Linked DNA regions of Homo sapiens. The protein of the gene in region 3 interacts with the protein of the main gene of each other region in a pairwise test. Each region holds a gene or a part of one and is shown on either strand. Other genes may lie near its edges.

What was found.
Region 1: the proteins of MGST3 (region 3) and STX8 interact in binary tests that used the Homo sapiens proteins (3 or more experiments, as listed by UniProt).
Region 2: the proteins of MGST3 (region 3) and HMOX2 interact in binary tests that used the Homo sapiens proteins (3 or more experiments, as listed by UniProt).

Annotation. Positions count from the first base shown.
Region 1 is NC_000017.11:9,250,803-9,257,840, forward strand, and holds part of STX8 (syntaxin-8), read right to left. Parts: intron 1-7,038. UniProt on the Homo sapiens protein: Vesicle trafficking protein that functions in the early secretory pathway, possibly by mediating retrograde transport from cis-Golgi membranes to the ER.
Region 2 is NC_000016.10:4,472,565-4,479,415, reverse strand, and holds the start of HMOX2 (heme oxygenase 2), read right to left. Parts: upstream 3,019-6,851; 5' UTR 2,929-3,018; exon of another isoform or gene 2,751-2,928; intron 153-2,750; exon of another isoform or gene 1-152. Other genes in the region: NMRAL1 (nmrA-like family domain-containing protein 1), read left to right, coding at 5,284-5,323.
Region 3 is NC_000001.11:165,634,197-165,641,234, reverse strand, and holds part of MGST3 (glutathione S-transferase 3, mitochondrial), read right to left. Parts: intron 1-7,038. UniProt on the Homo sapiens protein: Displays both glutathione S-transferase and glutathione peroxidase activities toward oxyeicosanoids, as part of cellular detoxification as well as synthesis of bioactive metabolites.

The DNA of each region.
Region 1 (7,038 bases), on a different chromosome or scaffold from region 3:
GCTGCTACACAGCTCTGGCTTTGCAGGATGCTGAGTGCAGAAGGCAGGGGCCTGGGTGTGGCCAGGCCCCCCCAGGCAGCACTCAAGCCAGGAGGGGGTGAGGCCCCTAACTCTAGCATCTGTGTACACCTTGGACCACAAGGGAGGGCGCAAGCTGCTGACGACAGCCACCCTCACTACCCAATCAGATTATGCATTGATGACGCATTGATAAAGCAAAGGGCTTAGGAGAGCATTCTAGAACCCATTTCTCCATTCTCCACATGGCTTCACTTTGTGTTCTTGAGTCCAAGATCCTTAAGTCACCCATTTGTAAAAATATTCACCGATAGAGGTGCTTGTTTTGATATATACTTTTTCTGCTAGTATTTGCTAGTTTCATTTCCTGACGTTTTTGGCTGGAGAGCACAGGCCCTCCTAGCCAGCCCATGCTGGGTGCCACTCTGCCTTCCAGCCCCGCCCTGCCTCCTCTGGGTCGTGTGTCTGCACTGACCATTGCCTGTTCCTTCACCTGATGCTGATGAAGTGGGCCCCACAGAATGCAGCCCTCACTTAGTGCAATGAGCTCACTGTCTCCCATGTTCGCTTGCCCAGTATTTAACGAGTGTTTACCACGTGCCAGGTACCAGCGGCGACAAGGTATAGCATAACAGAGAAGGGGCGCCCTACTACAAAGTAAGCACTCAAGAAAGGTTTGCTCACTGAAGAGTCCTTGAGCTGCCAAGGCCCCACGAGAGAGGTGGGTAGCAGAGGAGGAGAGGTCCATGAAAATGCTTCAGAAAGTAACAGGGAGAGCCACGTGTGCAGGGTCACATGGTTGCACAGCCATCAGGACTGCTGAACGCCACGGTAGTCTGTGGCATATGTTCGTGAGCAAAGAAAATGCTAAATTTCAATTAGACATTTGTGAACATAAGAGTCCAATTTGCTTTCCGGTCCAAGTTCACGGGCTTCCCGAATCCCCTCCACAGATCCTCAGGGTTCAATGTGGATCAGGCCATACCAATCTTAAGCTCAACCCATGTGGGCACTGCACCATGGTTTTGAATATTGAAGAGACTTAAAAATGTATGGCAAGTGGCTGGGTGCAGTGGCTCACACCTGTAATCCCAGCACTTTGGGAGGCCAAGGCGGGCGGATCATCTGAGGTCAGGAGTTCGAGACCAGCCTGACCAACATGGTGAAACCCCATCTCTATTAAAAATATATTTAAAAAAATAGGCCGGGCACGGTGCCTCATGCCTGTAATCCCAGCACTTTGGGAGGCCGAGGCGGGCAGATCATCTGAGGTCAGGAGTTCGAGACCAGCCTGGCTAACATGGTGAAACCCCGTCTCTACTAAAAATATATTTAAAAAATTGGCCGGGCGCAGTGGCTCACGCCTGTAATCCCAGCACTTTGGGAGGCCGAGGCGGGCGGACCATGAGGTCAGGAGATCGAGACCATCCTGGCTAACATGGTGAAACCCCATCTCTACTAAAAGTACAAAAAATTAGCCTGGCGTGGTGGCAGGCGCCTGTAGTCCCACCTACTTGGGAGGCTGAGGCAGGAGAATGGCGTGAACCCGGGAGGCGGAGCTTGCAGTGAGCCGAGATTGCGCCACTGCACTCCAAACTGGGCAACAGAGCAAGACTCTGTCTCAAAAAAAAAAAAAATATTAGCCAGGTGTGGTGGTGGGTGCCTGTAATCCCAGCTACTTGGGAGGCTAAGGCAAGAGAATCGTTTGAACACGGGAGGCGGAGGTTGCAGTGAGCTGAGATCACACCACTGCAATACAGCCTGTGCAACAACAGTGAAACTCTGTCTCAAAAAAAAAAAAAAAAGAAAACGAAAATAAAAAAAAAAACTAGGGCAAGCTTCTTTGTCATCTACCTGTGACTGTGGTTGCATTTTTCTGATATGGGCTCTTTCTCTGATGATCCAATCTTTTGAGAAACGCTTCTCTTGGGGCCCCAAGGTTTCTCCCCCGTCTTCCTGTAGATGAAAACCTCATCCTAGTCTACCTCAAGGCTCTGCCAACTTTGGTTCATGGGCCAAATCTAGCTGTGCTCTGTTTTTGTGCAACCCATGAGCTAACAATGGTTTTTATATTTGTAGAGGGTTGTCAAAAAGGTAAAAGGAGGAGATGTGACACCGTCTGTGGTCTGCACAGCCTAAACCGTTTACGACCTGGCCTCTTCCAGAGGCTTGCTAGCTCCTGCTCTCCATCATCATGATGATGACCCACCTGCAGCATCAGTTCGCCCACTTAGGCGCTGGCCTTCAATGCGCTCTTCATTTCTTTCATCTAGGGATTTCCTTTCTTCCTTGTAAATTCAGCCCTGCATTAACATTTGTGGGTGGGTGGAGTTACACTATTTTACCTCACATTTCAAGATGCTTGCAGCAAGAAGGCAGGGGTAGGGGTGTGTGTGTGTGTGTGTGTGTGTGTGTGTGTGTGTGAATATCTTAGTCCATCTGCAGTGAGAAGGTAGGGATACGGGTGTGTGTGTGTATGCGTATGTGTGTGTATGTGAGAATATCTTAGTCCATCTTCTTGCCAGAAGCAGAAGAACAAATCTTTTCACTGATTTCTGCTCCAGAAACATCTTCAGGTTGACCAAAAGCTCCCCTGGGCAGGAGCTTCACTAGTTCTTGGTTATTCTGGTGCCTGTGTGGTGATCAGCTGAAGACTTGGTCCTGGCTGGGTGAAGGTTTATGTTGCGCAACATGAGGAGAAGATAACGAGAATGAGGAGGCAGGCACAGGCTGGGATGGGGCGAAGGGGCAATCCCTGGCACTCCAGGGCCTGGGCTCACCCTAAGATGACAGGGAGGGGCTGGCAGCTGAGGAGATGAGGGAGAGGATGAGAGGTGTTTTAGGAAGAGGTACTGCTCCTGAAGCTCCAGTGGGATCACAGTTGGGAGGACACTTGGGCCCAGAAGCTCCATGCATCAAGGCAGGCTCCACACTGAGGCTCTGATGGCCTGGAGCAGAGGCCAGTATGAATGACCGTGAATTGTCAAATCAGGGTGATTATGAGAAGAGCGGAGCAAGTGACAAGAACAAAGAAATCAAGAACAACAACTGATTGGGAAGAAGAAAACACACATCTGGTTTTGGTTCATACACCCGGAGCGTGAGGTCCAAGGGAAGAGGCCTCAAGGCATGCGCAGTCACTGCCATCCCTGATTTGGCTCCCTGCAGTGAGGGACTGCTTTCCCCGGTCCCTGCTCCACGATGGAACTACAGCAAGCTTTTCAGAATGTAAAGGAGATCAGGTCACCTCCTTGCTTAAATCCTCCAGTGGCTGAAACTGAGATCCAAACTTTACAGTGGCCAAGGGGGTCTTGCACAGTCTGACCCAGCAACCCTGCAGCCGCACTCTGCGCGCTGTGTTTGAGCCATCCTGGCTGTCTCCGGTGCCCCCAACAGGCTGATGCAGAAGGTAGGGGCCCTGCCTCCCAGCTTCGACACGCGCTATCCTTTCCATCCGGGAGCTCCCCACTCGTGGTCTAGTTAATCCCTCAAACTCAGTGGCATTTTCCCAAAGAACTCTTTGTCATCCTCCAGTTACCTGTGCCCTCTTTGCCCCCCTAAGTTTCCATGGTAACTCTTATTAAATCTTTTTTTTTTTTGAGATGGAGTCTCGCGCCCAGGCTAGAGTGCGGTGACGTGATCTTGGCTCACTGCAGCCTCCGCCTCCTGGGTTCAAGCAATTCTCCTGCTTTAGCCTCCCAAGTAGCGGGGATTACAGGTGCCCACCACTATGCCCGGCTAATTTTTGTATTTTTAGTAGAGACAGGGTTTCACCATGTTGGCCAGGCTGGTCTCGAACTCCTGACCTCAAGTGATTTGCCCTCCTGGGCCTCCCAAAGTGCTGGGATTACAGGCGTGAGCCACCGCGCCCGGCCTTGAATCATTATTTAGGTACTCAGTTACTGTCTGTCTCTCCTGGACACATGAACATCTACACCAGGGACTGTGGGTTCTCGTTCACCGCCATATCCCCCGTACCTAGAACAGAGCCTGGCACAGGAAAGAGGCACACACACACGCGCACGTGTGTGCATGTGTGTGTGTGTGTATAAAACAAATGAGTAAATGTATTGAATTTTTGGAAGGGATAAGAAGAGTCAAGAGAGGCATAGAAGGAGTGGTCAGCAGAGAGGGAGAAGCTGAGAAAATGTGGCAAGAAGGCCAATGAGTAAGAAAATTCAAAAAGTGGCCAATGCCAACCCACAATACTACAGAGACAAGATAGAAGAATGCTCTTCCACAGAAGAGCTGCAGAGACCTTTCATAGTACAGTTTTAGCGCATGGTGGGTGGGTCTAGTGGAACTATTATTAATACAGTGGTGGCTAAGCTGCTAATTTTTCTACCACAGATGCTGTGAATTAGACAAACTGTGCCCCAGGAAAGGCATGACAGGGCACACATTATCTATAAAAAATGAAAATGGGCCAGGCGCTGTGGCTCACGCCTGTAATCCCAGCACTTTGGGAGGCCAAGGCGGGCGGATCATCTGAGGTCAGGAGTTTGAGACCAGCCTGGCCAACACAGAGAAACCACGTCTCTACTAAAAATACAAAAATTAACCGGGCATGGTGGTGCACGCTTGTAGTCCCAGCTACTTGGGAGGCTGAGGCAGGAGAATCACTTGAACTCGGGAGGCGGAGGTTGTGGTGAACTGAGATTGTGCCACTGCACTCCAGCCTGGGCAACAGAGCAAGACTCCATCTCAAAATAAATAAATAAATAAATAAATAAATATATAAATAAATAAATAAATAAATAAATAAATGAAAATGAACTTGAGTGATGGACATCTTGGACAGTAAGCTGATAAGATGTGATAAACTGGGTTCTTGTCCCAAGATGAAAAGGAGGATTTTAGGAGCCATGACAAATAAGGCTTTTATATTTTAAACCCTTTCAGAGCAAACAGGGGGAGACTTTAAACAGGCTTAAGTAAACTGGTATATACTGAGGGTCAACTGAGGAGGTCGTTTTAAGATGGCAGGTGACAGCGATAAGCAAAAGCCAACTGCTGTCTTTTGGATTCTTTGGGTCAAAGAGAAGGTGTTTATCTACCTTAGCACGGCAATCCTTTTTCTTTAAGAAGTTTGGCTTTCTTCGAATGTGATCCCAGCTCTGGCACCTTTCTGAATGGAGTTTCTCTCCTCTGAAGGATGTTTCGGAATGAGTAAGCAGGGATCTTTTTGAAGCCAGGGAAAGCTGAGCCACACCGTTCATGAAACAGTCATGCGTGCCAGGTTTGGCACTAAGTGCTATGGGTGTATTACTTGGTTTAATTCTGCACAGTAAGTAACCCTCATCTCTGTTTTATATCTGAGGAAGCTGGGGTTCTGGAAGGTGAACTCTCCTACCTAAGGCCCTCTGGCGGGTAAGAGGAAGAACTAGAATTGGAATCCAGGTGGGTAGGACCCCTCTGCCCACACGCTCACCCTTGTCTACACCAGTGGAGCTTGAGTGGAGGCATCCTGATTCGAGACAGTGTGGGGGTCCCTCGGGGAGAGAGGCTCAGACTCACTGGGGTTGAAACACCGGGATCAAGAGTTTCTTCTCTTTTCATCCTCTTCTCTTTCTCCCTCCCTCCTTCCCTTCCTTAACGTTTTATGATGGAAAATTTTAAACATATACAAAAGCAGACCGAAGGGCACGCAGAACAGTGATGAGCCCATCCGTCAGCTTTCGCAAGGATCCATTCATGGCCTGTCTGGCTTTATGCAAACCCTCACCTGCTCCCTGTCTCCTGCATATTATTTTGAAACAAATTCCAGACATAGGTCATCTACAAATATTTCAGTAAGTATCACTAAAAGGCACCATTAAAAAGACACACACACTCCCCCACTACCCACATAACCACAGAGGGTCTGACGGTTCCTAAAGGCAGAGGCAGGGAAGAGCTGGCAACTCTTCTGATGTAGGAAGGTGGCTCCAGTTTCAGGGGCGCAGCCGACCCCCCTGCCGGAGGGACATGGGACCTCACATCGTACTCGGTCACGTGTGAAAAGCAGAACTTCCTTCTTCTGCCTCAGAATAGTTCTTAAACCTCAGGGGGGTCTACTCATCCATTCCCCCAGCTAAGGAAATGTTTGACATTTCAGAACAAGGAAAGACAGTTGAACTTCTGGGAGGCTGCCAACTTCTTAAACAATGAATGCTCTCTGCCCCCAACCCTAGCACAGAACACCTGCTGCGGCTCCTGACTTCGGGATCGTTTCTCTGCGCTTCACTCAGCTCCTGCCCTGGGCCCGCTGGCACCTGGCGAGGCAGATTTTCCCTTCCAATACTCAAGAGTCCCTTTCAGGGGCAGGCATGGGATGCCAGGGTTACAAGAGTGGAAAAAAATGTCCATTTCCTTTGGTCAGTTTACCAGATGAGTATTACTCAACCACTTACAATATTTACAAGTCCAGCTCATGGCAATTAAAAAAAGATGTAAGAAAACAAACTCCTTTTCAAACTGGGAGAGGATATTAAACACAGTCTCTCAGGAATGGTGTTTTCTGAAGACTCGTCATCTGGAGTCATGGTCCATACTTTTTTCCAGTGAAACACTGGAAACGAGCAAAATACGGAGCTTGTGCTGCCAACGCCCCTGCCACAAGTTGGGTGTAGGTAACAGCTCTCAGTGCTTACTGACATGGAGGAGGAGGGGAAGGAGGAGAAAGAATCTGGAGGCTGACTTTTCGAGAGAGTGTGGATCTCTGTGTTGGCCACTTCTGCCCTGTAGCTGCAGGGGAACGTGGCAAGTAGGCTGATGGGAAAGCAAGAGGCAGGGAGGGGTGAAGGGCGCTTTATCCAGGAGTCTTTTTATCTGGTTTTGTTGCAAGGAAAGCCGCCTTAGCTGCCTACTACTATTTTGGTTGTCTTGAACCAAAACACATATTCTGGCCAGGCGTGGTGACTTATGCCTGTAACCCCAGCACTTTGGGAGGCCAAGGCGAGTGGATCACCTGAGGTCAGGAGATTGAGACCAGCCTGGCCAGCATGGCCAAACCCCGTCTCTACTAAAAAATGCAAAAAT
Region 2 (6,851 bases), on a different chromosome or scaffold from region 3:
CTCTTTCCAGCCTGTGCCTTAGACAAGGACCCCAAACAAGGATCACCTGGGAAACTCCAAAAAACAGATTCCTAGTCATAATCCCAATTTTACCAAAAAAGAAGCGTTTGGAAACCCCTTAGATCGACAAGCAGCATCCAAAGACACCAAAAACTTAGGCTCATCAAGTATTAACTTCCTGCCTCAGCCTCCCAAGTAGCTGAGATTACAGGTATGTGCTAGCATCCTACTTATTGTTCACTCTGATAGAATTTTTTTTTCTTTGAGATGAAGTTTTGCTCTTGTCGCCCAGGCTGGAGTGCAATGGCATGATCTTGGCTCACTGAAACCTCTGCCTCCCAGGTTCAAGCAATTCTCCTTGCTCAGCCTCCCGAGTAGCTGGGATTACAGGCTACTTTTTGCAAGGCTAATTTTTGTATTTTTAGTAGAGACGGGGTTTCACAATGTTAGCCAGGCTGGTCTCGAACTCCTGACCTCAGGTGATCCACCCGCCTTGGTCTCCCAAAGTGCTGGGATTACAGGCGTGAGCCACCGCACCCAGTCTAGGTCAAGTTTTTCATCTCTTTCCTTTCCAAGGAGTTAAAGCTGAATTTCAAATTTTACAGTGAAATACACAATTCTAATTTTCTTTCTTTCTTTTTTTTTTTTTTGAGATGCAGTTTTGCTCCTGTTGCCCAGGCTGGAATGCAGTGGCACAATCTTGGCTCATCGCAACCTCTGCCTCCCAGGTTCAAGTGATTCTCCTGCCTCGGCCTCCCAAGTAGCTCGGATTACAGGCACACACCACCATGCCCAGCTAATTTTTGTATTATTATTATTTTTTTCTTAGTAGAGATGGGGTTTTTCCATGTTGGTCAGGCTGGTCTCTATCTCCCGACCTCAGGTGATCCGCCCATCTCGGCCTCCCAAAGTGCTGGGATCACAAGCATGAGCCACTGCACCGGGCCCACAATTCTAATTTTCAAATATATCTTCCTCCTGGAGGAGTGATATTCCAGTTTTGGGTGCAATCCTGATGTAGAGCCCAACTGTCCTGTGAAGAGAGTCAGCTGTTAAAAGGAAACCAAAAAATCAAGGTAGCTCTAGCTGTCCAATTTTACAAGTTTTCAACAGACTTGATGAGGGGTGAGCTAAAGGCGGTCAATGCTTTATTGTCTGTAACTCACTGGCACTGGCATTTCTAGAGTTGCTCACGTTCCCCCTTTTGGTGACTCACAGCACTTCAACATGTTGCCACAGCCAAGGAAAAAAGGAAATCAAGTCAGACAATGGAGGAATCACAGGATTTCCCTCTTCACATCCCCAGGTAGATGAGGTCATTCAATGAGTGTGTTTCCAAGGCTCCACAAATTCCCACACCCTCACCAGTGTTTAAACCTGAATGTTTTATCTGATAACTTTTTCTAATTTCACCAAGTAAGCTTATATATGTCTTAACTGTGAACTCCTGATAAGCACAAATTTTGTCTTGTGATAATTTATTTTTTTCTTTTTTGAGACAGGGTCTCACTCTGTCACCCAGGCTGGAGTGCAGTGATGCGATCTCAGCTCACTGCAATCTCCACTTCGTGGGCTCAAGTGATCCTCCAACCTCAAACTCCCCAGTAGCTGGGATTACAGACACGCGCCACCCCGCCCGTTTAACTTTTTTGTATTTTTAGTAGAGACGGGGTTTCACCATGTTGGCCAGGCTGATCTCGAACTCCTGACCTCAGGTGATCCGCCTGCCTCGGCCTCCCAAAGTGCTGGGATTACAGGAGTGAGCCACTGCACCGGCCAGCGTTTCTTTCTTCAATCACACTCCACCTTGTCTGGTTTGTAGCGCCATCAACAAAACACAGTACGTAAGGATGGACAGCCACAGGCCACGACAACCGGCTCATCAGAAGCGATTTTTTTTTTTTTTTTTTTTTTTTTTAGATGGAGTCTTGCTCTGTCGCCCAGGCTGGAGTGCAATGGCGTGATCTCGGCTCACTGCAACCTCTGCCTCCCGGGTTCAAGCGATTCTCCTGCCTCAGCCTCCTAAGTAGCTGGAGCTACAGGCTCACGTTACCATGCCCGGCTGATTTTTGTATTTTTAGTAGAGACGGGGTTTCACTATGTTGGCCAGGCTGGTCTCGGACTCCTGACCTCAAGCAATCCGCCCGCCCTGGCCTCCCAAAGTGCTGGAATTACAGGCGTGAGCCACCGACCCGGCCCAGACGCGATTTAAATGGCATGACACAGGCAGGCCTCGTGCAAAGACTGCAAGGAGGTCCCGGCAGCTTTTGCAGGGCAATTAATCCACCCAGAGCACTGCGCTCAGAAAGTAATAGGTAAACCCGCGTCCGGACTAACCGGCTGCCCCCACACTTGATCCCTCCCAGTCCGACTCTGCTCCAGGGCGTACCAGGGTTCACTCGTGAAGTCACGACACCCACTCAAGGGGCACTTCCTATAGAGATAAGGGCATTAGAGGAAGGGCAGAGCCCCGGTCAATGCCAACAGCCCGGGAAACAGCCAAGCCGGGCTCCAATCTCTGCCGGCATCCCCTGTCTGCACCGCCGACGCCCCCAGCTACGACCCCGGGGGTCACCTCGCCCAGCATAGCCGTGACGCTGGGAGAGGGTGGGCCCAACGGGGACGCCAAAGAGAGCCATTCAGGCCTCCCCGCGCCCCCGGGGAGACGACTTCTGGAGAGCGGCGTCCGCGGTTTCGCCCTCCCCTGACAGCCCCTCCACGCCCTTCTTCGTCCTTCTGCCCGGCCTCACCCAGCTTCCGGCCGCCCCCGGCCGGGTCTCCCCTCAGACCGGCGCAGGGGACCCAAAGGGCTGTGGCCCGGCCAAGCCCAGGTCCGAAGGCCTGGACCGAGGCAGGGCCCGCGAAGGACGCAGCGCGGTCCGAGAAGCCGGGCGGAAGGAAGGCCCCGGGAGGGCGCGGACAGCTCACCTGCCGCAGGTCGCTGTCGCCTGTCCGCCAGCCTCCAGTCAGCGTGCCCGTCAGCGACTCCCTCAGGCGCCGCAGTCCCTGCAGCCCAGCGGACTGGCGCGAGGCCGGCGCAACGTGGGCACGCAGCGCGGGGCGGGGCCTAGAGATGACACGCCCCTTGTAGCTGACACGCCCTTGCCGGGGGCGGGAAGCGGAGTATGTGGCTTTCCCCAGGTCTCTGGAGGTTGCAGGCTCAGGCTCTGCTCAGCGGGGTAAGTAGGCGTGCTTCGGCAGGAACACTAGTGTTCACAAGAGCCGAGGTGTGTGAGGGTGCCTCAGGGTTGAGCACTTTTCTTCCCCAGTGTGGTTTAATCCTTGTACATCCACTCAGTGATGTAAGAAATAGGGTTGTCAACCGTGGCACCACCCACTTGGTCACTTGCCAATGCAATCTGCGAAACTGAGTCTCAACTCTGACACCTCGGTTACCAGTCTTGTATCTGATCTCCCTGTTGCATTATTCGCATTCTTCAAACAGCGGCCAGAATGACAGAATGATTTTTCTTTTTTTGAGACCGAGTTTTGCTCGTCGCCCAGGCTGGAGTGCAATGACGTGATCTCGGCTCACTGCAACCCCCTTCTCCCGGGTTCAAGCGATTCTCCTGCCTTAACCTCCCGAATAGCTGGGATTACAAGCGCCTGCCACCACGCCCGGCTAATTTTTGTATTTTTAGTAGAGACGGGGGTTTCACCATGTTGGCCAGGCTGGTCTCGAACTCCTGAGCTCAGGTGATCCACCCGCCTCGGCCTCCCAAATCACTGCAATTACAGGCCACCGCACCCAGCCCAGAGTCATTTTTTAGTTTTACTGAACACAAAGAAATTACTGAAATCGTGGGCCGGGTGTGGTGGCTCATGTCTGTAATCCCAGCACTTTGGGAGCCTGAGGCGGGAAGATCACTTGAGGTCAGCAGTTCGAGACCAGCCTGGCCAGCATGTTGAAACCCCGTCTCTACCAAAAATACAAAAAAATTTTAGCCGGGCATGGTGGCTCCTGCCTGTAATCCCAGCTACTCAGGAAACTGAGGCAGGAGAATCACTTGAACCCAAGAGGCGGAAGTTGCAGTGAGCCAAGATCGCACCACCACTGCACTCCAGCCTGGGCCACAGAGCAAGACTCCACCTTGAAAACAAAAAACAAAAACAAAAAAAAACTGAAATCAGTGCAAGTAGCAGCAACTTCAGAAGTGAGTTAGGGCTGGGCACGGTGGCTCCCACCTGTACTCCCAGCACTTTGGGAGGCTGAGGTGGGTGGATCACTTTAAGTCAGGAGTTCGAGACCTGCCTGGTCAACCTGGTGAAACCCCGTCTCTACTAAAAAATACAAAAATTAGCCGGGCTTGGTGGCACATGCTTGTAATCCCAGCTACTCGGGAGGCTGAGGCAGGAGAATCTCTTGAACCCGGGGGGCGGAGGTTGCAGTAAGCCGAGATCGCGCCACTGCACACCAGCCTGGGCGACGGACCAAGACACTGTCTCAAAAAAATAAAAATAATAAAATTTTAAAAGTGAGTTAGGCAAAGAAAATATCAAGCGGACAAGGCCTCAAGGGATAAGACTCATGGACATAGCTTTAATTATCTTTGCCTGACGCCCAATACCTGAAAATTAAGATGTTCATGCAAGATAAAGAGGTAATTTTTCTCCTCCTCCCAGTCATCACCCGTAGCATCCGGTTAAGAGGCTCTCCACCTCGCTCATTTTGGTCTAACTGGATTTACACAAACTCACTGTGCACGTGCCTGGGGCGGGCAAACCCGGAAACGACGCCGAGTCCCGCGGGATCCAGGAGGAGCCAACTGCGCCGGAGGAGGGGTTTCGGCCGACACGTCGGGATTGGCGGCTGCAGCCAGGGGTCCTCCGACGCTGGGCTTCCGTGAGCGGCGCTCTGCCAGGTGGGGCCGGAGCTGCGGGGAGGGAGTTGGCGCCTAGCGCGCAGCTCCATCCCCGCCTCTGCAGTGGACTCGGCCGCAGAATCGGGGTCCCGGGCTCCTGGAACTTGTCCCGCCCAGGCCGCGGCGAGGAGGTCACTCCAGCCGGTGGGACCCGGGCCGGGGGGCGGGTGACTGGAACCGGGGGAGGCGGGAAGGAGGAGGGGATCGGGCCCAAGGGACACGAGGTGGGTCGCGGGACCCCGATATCTCGGGACAGGCGTCTTGCCGCTCCGGGCCCAGCCGCCCCCTTCGACACATACTCGATGCATAGACAATGGGGGTGTCCTTTGTCGCTCCTGGCGGGAACCCCGGCCCCACCCCCAACTCCACGCCTCCCATTACCCCCAGATCTCTGGACCGGATTCGTCCCATTCTCGTCCTCATGGTGGACAAGAAACTGGTGGTGGTTTTCGGAGGCACAGGTGAGCCAAACCCCAGACTGGGGCCCTTGCAGAGCCAGGGCGCCTAGCCCTGAAGACCGCCCGTCCTGGGGTCTGCAGGGAGGGGTAAGGTCACTGGGACCCCCGACCCAGGTTGGGGCTGTGGTCGCAGGAACGAGGCCCAAATTGCTTTCCAATTTTTTTTTTTTTGGACGGAGTTTTGCTCTGTCACCCAGGCTGCAGTGCGATGGCACGATCTCGGCTCATTGCAACCTTTGCCTCCCGGGTTGAAGCGATTCTCCTGTCTCAGCCTCCCGAGTAGCTGGGATTACAAGGGCATGCCACCACGCCCGGCTAATTTTTGTATTTTTAGTAGAGACGGGGTTTCATCATATTGGTCAGGCTGGTCTCAAACTCCTGACCTCAGGTGATGACCCGCCTCGGCCTCCCAAAGTGCAGGTATTACAGGCATGAACCACCACGCCAGACCTGCTTTCCAAATTAAAAAAAAATGAGTTACTTAACTTATTTGAATAGGAGTACTTGAACATGATACCAAAATTAAATCTTCTTCCTAGCCTCCTCTTCCACCTCATCTATTGCTGTTACCAAGTTTCTTGAATATCCTGCCAGAGTAGATAACATGTTATCATTTTTTCAAATGATAGCATATTATTTCATTCCTATTTTTTCTTATTTATACATATTTAATATCTCTAACAGCTTTATTGAGATATAATTCACGTACTATACAATCTACCTGTTTAAAGTGTGCAACTCACTGGTTTCTAGTGTATTCATAGAATTGTACAACCATCACCACAATCAATTTTAGAAAATTTCCATCACTCCAAAAAGAAACTCTGGCCCAGGTGCAGTGGCTCAACCCTGTAATCCCAGCACTTTAGTTGGACCAAATGGGCAGATCGCTTGAGCTGAGGTGTTTGAGACCAGCCTGAACAACAGGGCAAAATCTCGTCTCTACAAAAAAATACAAAAATTAGTGGGGCGTGGTGTCATGCACCTATAGCTACCTAGGAGGTTGAGGTGGGAGGATCACCTGAGTCCAGCAGGTCAAGGCTGCAGTGACCTGATTGTGCCACTGCACTCCAGCCTGGGCAACAGAGTGAGACCTGATCTCAAAAAAAAAAAAAAAAAAAAGAACTCCATGAACCCGTGAACAGTTACTCCCCATTCTTACTCCTCCCAGCCAACCCCTAGAAAGCTCCAATCTACTTTTGGTTTCTATGGATTTGTCTATTCGGGACATTTCATATGAATAAAATCATAATATGTAGCCTTTTCTCTCTGGCTTCTTCAGTTAGCATGTTTTCAAGGTTTGTTCATGTTGTAGTGTGTGTCCGGGCTTTACTCTTTTTTTTTTTTTTTTTGAGACAGAGTCCCGCTCTGTTGCCCAGGCAGCAGTGCAGTGGCGTGATCTCTGCTCACTGCAACTTCTGCCACTCGGGTTCAAGCGATTCTCCTGTCTCACCCTCCTGAGTAGCAGGGACTACAGGCGTGAGCCACCATGCCTGGCTAATTTTTGTATTTTTAATAGAGATGGGGTTTT
Region 3 (7,038 bases):
AAACATGCAAACAAAAAACAGCTTCAGGGAGTGGGAACTCTTTTTTTGTTTTGAGACAAAGTTTTGCTCTTCCCCCCAGGCTAGAGTGAAGTGGCACGATCTAGGCTCACTGCAACCTCCGCCCCCTGGGTTCAAGTGATTCTCCTTCCTCAGCCTCCCGAGTAGCAGGGATTATAGGTGCCCACCATCACACCAGGCTCATTTTTGTATTTTTAGTAGAGACGGGGTTTCACCACGTAGGCCAGGCTGGTCTCGAACTCCTGACCTCAGGTGATCCACCTGCCTCAGCCTCCCAGAGTGCTAGGATTACAGGCACCTGGCCAAGAATGGGAACTCTTCTGGGGAAAACACACGGCAATGGCATAGAGACTGGGCAGGGCTGTTGCATCAGGATCCCGGCTGGGAAGGCCTCCTTTGTGTGGCATTGAATATAGTATACCTCTCTAGATGGACTATGTGCTCTTTGAGGACAGAGAGCGTGTCTCCTTGCTTATATTTTTTATAGCAACTTGCATGAAGACAGAAACTCAGTAGAATGCTGCTGTTCTATATCCTAGATCAGTGGTTCTCAAACTTTGGTGGCATTAAAATCACCTGGAGAGTTTGTTAAAACATACCTCAGTCCCAGAGTTTCTGGTTCAGTCATGTTAGGTGGGGCCTGAGTATTATCATATCTAACTAGTTCCTAGGTAATGCTGATGATGTTGGTCAAGGACCACATTTTAAGAACCACTGTTCTGAGCAAAAACAAAATTTGCAGGAGGTGGTGATTCTATCTGATTCAAAACCACAGTCACAGTCTTGTCTTGGTGGTTATATTCTACTACTATCTTTGGAGGCTCCTGAGGTGCTCCTTCTGTACCACCCCTGAAAACAGAATGGGGCTGATGAGATCAGAGACTGTTGTGAAGAGCAAGCTCCAGCTAAGCTCTTCACAATTACACACTAACAGTGTGCCCAGCAGAAGACTGACTTCTTCTTTCAGCTTTAACAGAGGTTCGAGACAACAAAGCAAGTGTGTAAGCCAGCTCAGTATCTTCAGAGTCTCTATCCTGTGACCACCATTGGGTTACCAGATCTCACTTCATGGTCATGGTCACTCACCAGATCAGATTTTCCCATAGTCAAATGAGTCAGAGTTCTAGGTTCTCCATCCTTCAAAAGTAATGCTCATTATGCTACAGAATGACCTCTCTGGGATCATCCCTTCTAATACCATGGATCAGGCATACCTCAACTTCTGAATGATTAGAAACATGACTTCAAATGAAAGGCCTATTTAATGAATCAGTAGGACTTCCAGCCAACTTCTCATGGAATTTTTCATCCCATCTGGCAGAAACAGCAAAACTGAAAATATCACTACTACATATATAATACCTAACTATAAGACCTGGTCCCATAGAGTGCTTCTTTTGTTTTGTTTTGTTTTGAGACAGGGTCTTGCTCTGTCACCAAGGCTGGAGTGTAGGGGTGCTATCTCAGCTCACTGCAGCCTCTGCCTCCCGGGTTCAAGCAATTCTCATGCCTCAACCTCCAGAGTAGCTGGGATCACAGGCACATGTCACTACACCCAGCTAATTTTTGTATTTTTAGTAGAGATGGGGTTTCGCCATGTTGGCCAGGCTGGTCTCGAACTCCTGACCTCAAGCAGTCCACCTGCCTCAGCCTCCCAAAGTGCTGGGATTACAAGCATGGGCCACCGCGCCAGGCCTAGAGTGCTTCTTTTATGGCAGGCACTGTAACAGAGTTTAGATATTTTAACACTTTCCATCCTTACAACAATCCCATATGATAGTTACTATTATTATCCCCATTCTATGGATGAGGAAATGGAGGCAAAGAGAAATTCAACAATTTGCCTAAGGTCCCACAGCTGATGAGTGCACAGCTGGTGTCTGAATACAGGCAGACTGATGCCAGTGTCCATGCTTTTTGCTACTAACACACTACTGGGTTTGTCCCTTACTCAGAAGTTAAATCACCTCTTCCCCCAGTACGGGAAGCACCGAGGGGAAAGTCCTCTGCAACGTTCAATTGAAGGCAATTGAATCCTGCTGCACCACAGGCTTCTACTCCAGGAGAGAAACAGAGCCAGGGCCCAAGAGCATAGGGGAGGGAGAGACAGATCCACGATCGTTGGAATACTTTACATAGAGGATCATACCATCTGCAAAGAGAGACAGTTTTACTTCTTCCTTTCCAATGTGGATGTCTTTTATTTATTTTTTTTTCTTGACTGATTGTCCTGGTTAGGGGCAATGCAATGTTGAATACCAGTGGCAAGTGCCGACATCCTTGCCTCTTTCCTCATCTTAGGGGGAAGCATTCAGTCTCTCTCCTTTAAATATGTTATTAGTGGCTGGTTTCCACAGATGCCCCTTTTAAGAATACTTTAGAAACCTAATTATTTCTAGAATGTGGGTTTTTTTTTTTTTTTAAGACGGAGTCTCTCTCTGTCCCACAGGCTAGAGTGAGTGGCAGAGTGCAGTGGCACGATCTTGGCTCACTGCAACCTCCACCTCCTGGGTTCAAGTGATTCTCCTGCCTCAGCCTCCTAAGTAGCTGAGATTACAGACATGCACCACCATGCCCAGCTAATTGTTGTATTTTAGTAGAGACAGGGTTTCGCCATGTTGGCCAGGCTGGTCTTGAACTCCTGACCTCAAGTGATCCACCCTCCTTGGCCTCCGAAAGTGCTGGGATTACAGGTGTGAGCCACCGTACCTGGCTGGGTTTTTGTTTTGTTTTGTTTTTGTTTTGAGACAGGGTCCCCCTCTGTCATCCGGGCTGGAGTGGAAGTGGCACAATCAGGGCTCACTGCAGGCTTGACCTCTGGACTCAAGCAATCCTTCTGCCTCAAAGTAGCTGATATTACAGGTGTGTGCCACCATGCCCAGCTAATTTTTTGTATTTTTAGTACAGACGGGGTTTCGCTATGTTGGCCAGGCTGGTCTCGAACTCCTGAGCTCAAGCAATTTGCCTCTCTCAGCCTCCCAAAGTGCTGGGATAAGAGGCATGAACCACTGCTCCTGGCCCTATAATGTTTTAAAAACACAGCAGCACTTCTATTTGTAACTTTTACATTTATCAGTGTATTACTTGCCAAACATGATTGTTTTGGAGTACATTATCAAGTTAGGGGAAGAAAACTAGGAACAGTATTTTGAAGCAAGCAGGGTATAGGACGTGGGGGGTAGCAGAAAAGCCCCGGGCCATGGTAGGTTTTCAGGGGTAGATTAGGAGACTAACATGCCCTGGTAAGCAGCAGGGCTCTGACGTCCGTGGGTGGTAGAATAGCAAAAACTTTTCAGTGTAGCCAGAGTTAGCAGACACCCAATGGGTTTTAAGTAAGCTACAACACACACATTTGCAAAGTTTCAGTTTAGGAGTGATCAGACTTGGGCTTAAGATGAGGCAGTGTTGGTCTAACTCCTAAAACACATGCTCCATTCCAGCATTTGAGTTAGCAACACAGGGGTTCATTATGACATCTGGCTAAGGTACTTAACCTCTAGAAATTTTACTGACAGAGTTTCCTGGGAACACAGCTATTCAAATACCAAAATGTTGCTCAACCTTTCCTCTAATTCTTGCTTCTGCCACCATTTGACGTATCTTACTGGGGCAGGGTTCCTTTGGTTGCAAGGCTTACCCAGAAAGCTTCCTGAACTACATCCAATAGAACACTCCTGGGGTAAAGGTCTCCTTCACTACTTCCCAAATTCCTCTTGGCTGCCCATCAGAAATTCCCCAGCACACAATCAGCATTCCACAAACAAAGCAAAAGGCAGGCTTTATGGATTTGGGTACCTGCCTCAAATAATTTACCACTTCTGAGCCATGAAGTGACACTACCTTTTATTTTACTAAATGACAATGAGATTCTTAAGGGAGAGAAGATTATGTCTTTCAGCTCTCTCTCTTTGCTCCCAAATAAATAAAATCCAGCTTTGACAAAAGTAGTCCCTACTTCTGTGTATGATATTGCTCTCCTCAAATTGTACTGCAATTTCTCAACTGCTCTTTTTTTTCTTTTTAATGTGTCCAGGGATGGGACAATGACAAAGCATTCACAGATTAACTTGAAGCCATTCTCCAATGTTTCATTAAAATCCTTATTCGGCTGCCTGTGCTATTCCAATCTTCCTTACATGGCAAAAATCAATATTTTAATGAGAGTAACACACAAGGATAGTCACATAAAGGGCTAGTCTGATCATACCAAAAGGACTTCCCTGAGTCCCAAACACCAGACGGTAGCTTAGAACACTCTGAGGTGGTGCTGAGGGTCCACTTGGCTCACTTAAAGCTCCCCTGGATAGTTGTACAGCCTAACTTCTGCATCCAGATGTTTCCACGAAGGAACAAGCCTCAAAACCATCTCCAGCCAGGGCAGCTGACCCTCCATACAATGCTCAGCGGAGCTCACACAATGCTCAATGGAGAAATTAAAGAGCCTAGAGGGAAGTAACATAAAAACAATTTTTTTTTTTTTTGAGACGGAGTCTCACTGTGTTGCCAGGGTGGAGTGCAGTGGTGCCATCTCAGCTCACTGCAACCTCTGCCTCCCAGGTTCAAGTGATTCTTCTGCCTCAGCCTCCTAAGTAGCTGGGACTACAGGTGTGTGCTACCACGCCCCGGTTAATTTTTGTATTTTTAGTAGAGATGGGTTTTTACCATGTTGATCAGACTGGTCTCGAACTCCTGACCTCAGGTGATCCACCCACCTTGGCTTCCCAAAGTGCTGGGGTTACAGGCATGAGCCACCGTGCCTGGCCCATAAACGCAATCCTCTTGCTCATTACACAATGTATATACGTACTAAAACATCACACTGTATCTCATAAATATATCCAATATTATATATCTATTAGAAACAAAGTAAAACTTAAGCTGGGTGCAGTAGTGCACACCTGTAATCCCTGCTACTTGGGAGGCTGAGGTGGGAGGACTGCTTCAGCCTAGGAGTTTGAGTCTAGCCTGGGCAACATGGTGAAACCCCACCTCAAAATGACAACACACACACCCACACACAAAAACTTTAAAAATGTAATTATCTGTTTCTATGATAGGACAGAAAAGGAGAGTCATGGGATTTCTTTGGGTTCAGACTACATTTTCAGAATGCTAGTTCCAGTCCACTTCTACATTAAACAGATGCTAAAATCTGTTTGAGCGCCAAACCTTCATGACAGCCAGATTTAAATTACACTTAAAAGAAGGAACAGAAACCTAGGTAATGAAAAGTAACTATCCCCCGACAATTGCATTGCATATTCAGTAGATTGTTCCCTAAGGGCTAAAAACAAAAAGTTGAATAGAAATCATATTATTTATCCAGCACTTGATTACTGGTTCAAGTAAGGCAAATAGCAGCAAGCAGGTCCTAGAGTGGGTCTTTCACAGTACCTCACAGTCCATAGTCTTCAATATTCATCAATGTTGCTGGTGGAATATTTGGAGAGTGGAAGCTAACTATATGTTAGGAGGATGGAAGATCTGTCCCTTTAAGAGATAAATATGTTATAATCCAAATATATTCAACTGTATAGTTAAATAGCCATAGTTTGGCCATATAAAATATTCAAGTTTTAGATGTCGTTTTTATTCCAACACTTTGGTAAACTGTTGGTACTGAAAACAATTGCTTAATACATGGCTGCACTGGCTGGGAGTGGGGGAGGGAAGATCAGCAGGATGCTCAAGTTCCAGTGAATGGTTCTTGGTTATAGAGCACAAGCTTGCACTCACACGAACTCTGTTGAAACTCTGTTAAAGCCAAATAAGCAAATTACCTGCTTTCTTCTTCTCTGGAGTGTGCCTTCTGTGTAATAAGGCACTAAACACACATGCCTGATGAAATCTCCTCTGAGAAAAAACTGGTAATTCTGTTCTTCAGGAATCTAAGAATACTAGATTTATAACAAGACAGAATAAATTCCAGGTTCCCCTGCAGGTATAAGGACAAACTTTCCCAGATTCTTGACACAGAAGGTTCTGTGGGAGATACCTAACCTAGAAGCCCTGGGCTTTGCTAGACCCTTTGGAGCTGAGCTTCCCAAGAGATGTGATCCCAGGGACAACCCACTGGATGTTTCCCATGGTCTGCAGGCAGCAACCTCAGAGGGCGGGGTGGAGGGGGAGGGGAATGGTGAGAAGCCATGGGATACAGAAGGAAAAATAAAGACAACATCTCATAATGCATTAAATGAAGCTGATATGATAAATTCAATGTCGGACAAAGCATTTTACCTAAATGGGATGCTTGCCTCAAGTCCATAGCTATCATCTTCAGTATTTTCTCAGAATGATTCCTTCCCTTATTCATCCTTTACTAAATGCCATGTTCCACTCAAGGGGCAGGGCTACTATGAGAATGATCAAGAATGAGAAGGAAGGTCCTGACTCTCTAGAATACACAGTTGAGAGTGGGGGGGAGGGAGGGAGGGAGAGGGAGGGAGAGAGAGGGAGGGAGGGAGAGAGAGAGAGAGCGCATGATTGAGAGAGAGCACGAGTGAGCATGCAGTCAGGGAAGACAAAAACACAGCAGGACCATACCATAAAACATAAGGGTGACATTGCGACAAAGGATCTGAAGAGCATAAAGTGATATGTGAGAGAGAACACAGGTAAAGAAAACAGCAAGAGCAGAGACTTGGAGACAGAAAAAGGCTTGACTTGTATGAAGGAGAGAAAAGAGTCCAGTGTGTCTGAAGGGTAGTGATATAGACTAGAGGAAGAAAAGTAGGAGAAATCAATTATTATTACTTATTACCACCGTGCACAGTATTTAGTAAGGGGCAAACCTTGTTCTAAGCAGTTAGTTCATCAGTATTAACTCATTTAGATCCTCACAGCATCCCTATGATATTACTCCCATTTTGCAGATGAAGAAACGCAGTACCAGAAAGGTTAAGTGACCTGCCCAAGGTCACACAGCGATCACAGAGCACAGCCAGATCCCCACACCCCCAAGCAGTCTGGCTCCAGTTTGTGCTCTCAGCCTTTTGCTATATTGTCTCTCAATGAGGTTGA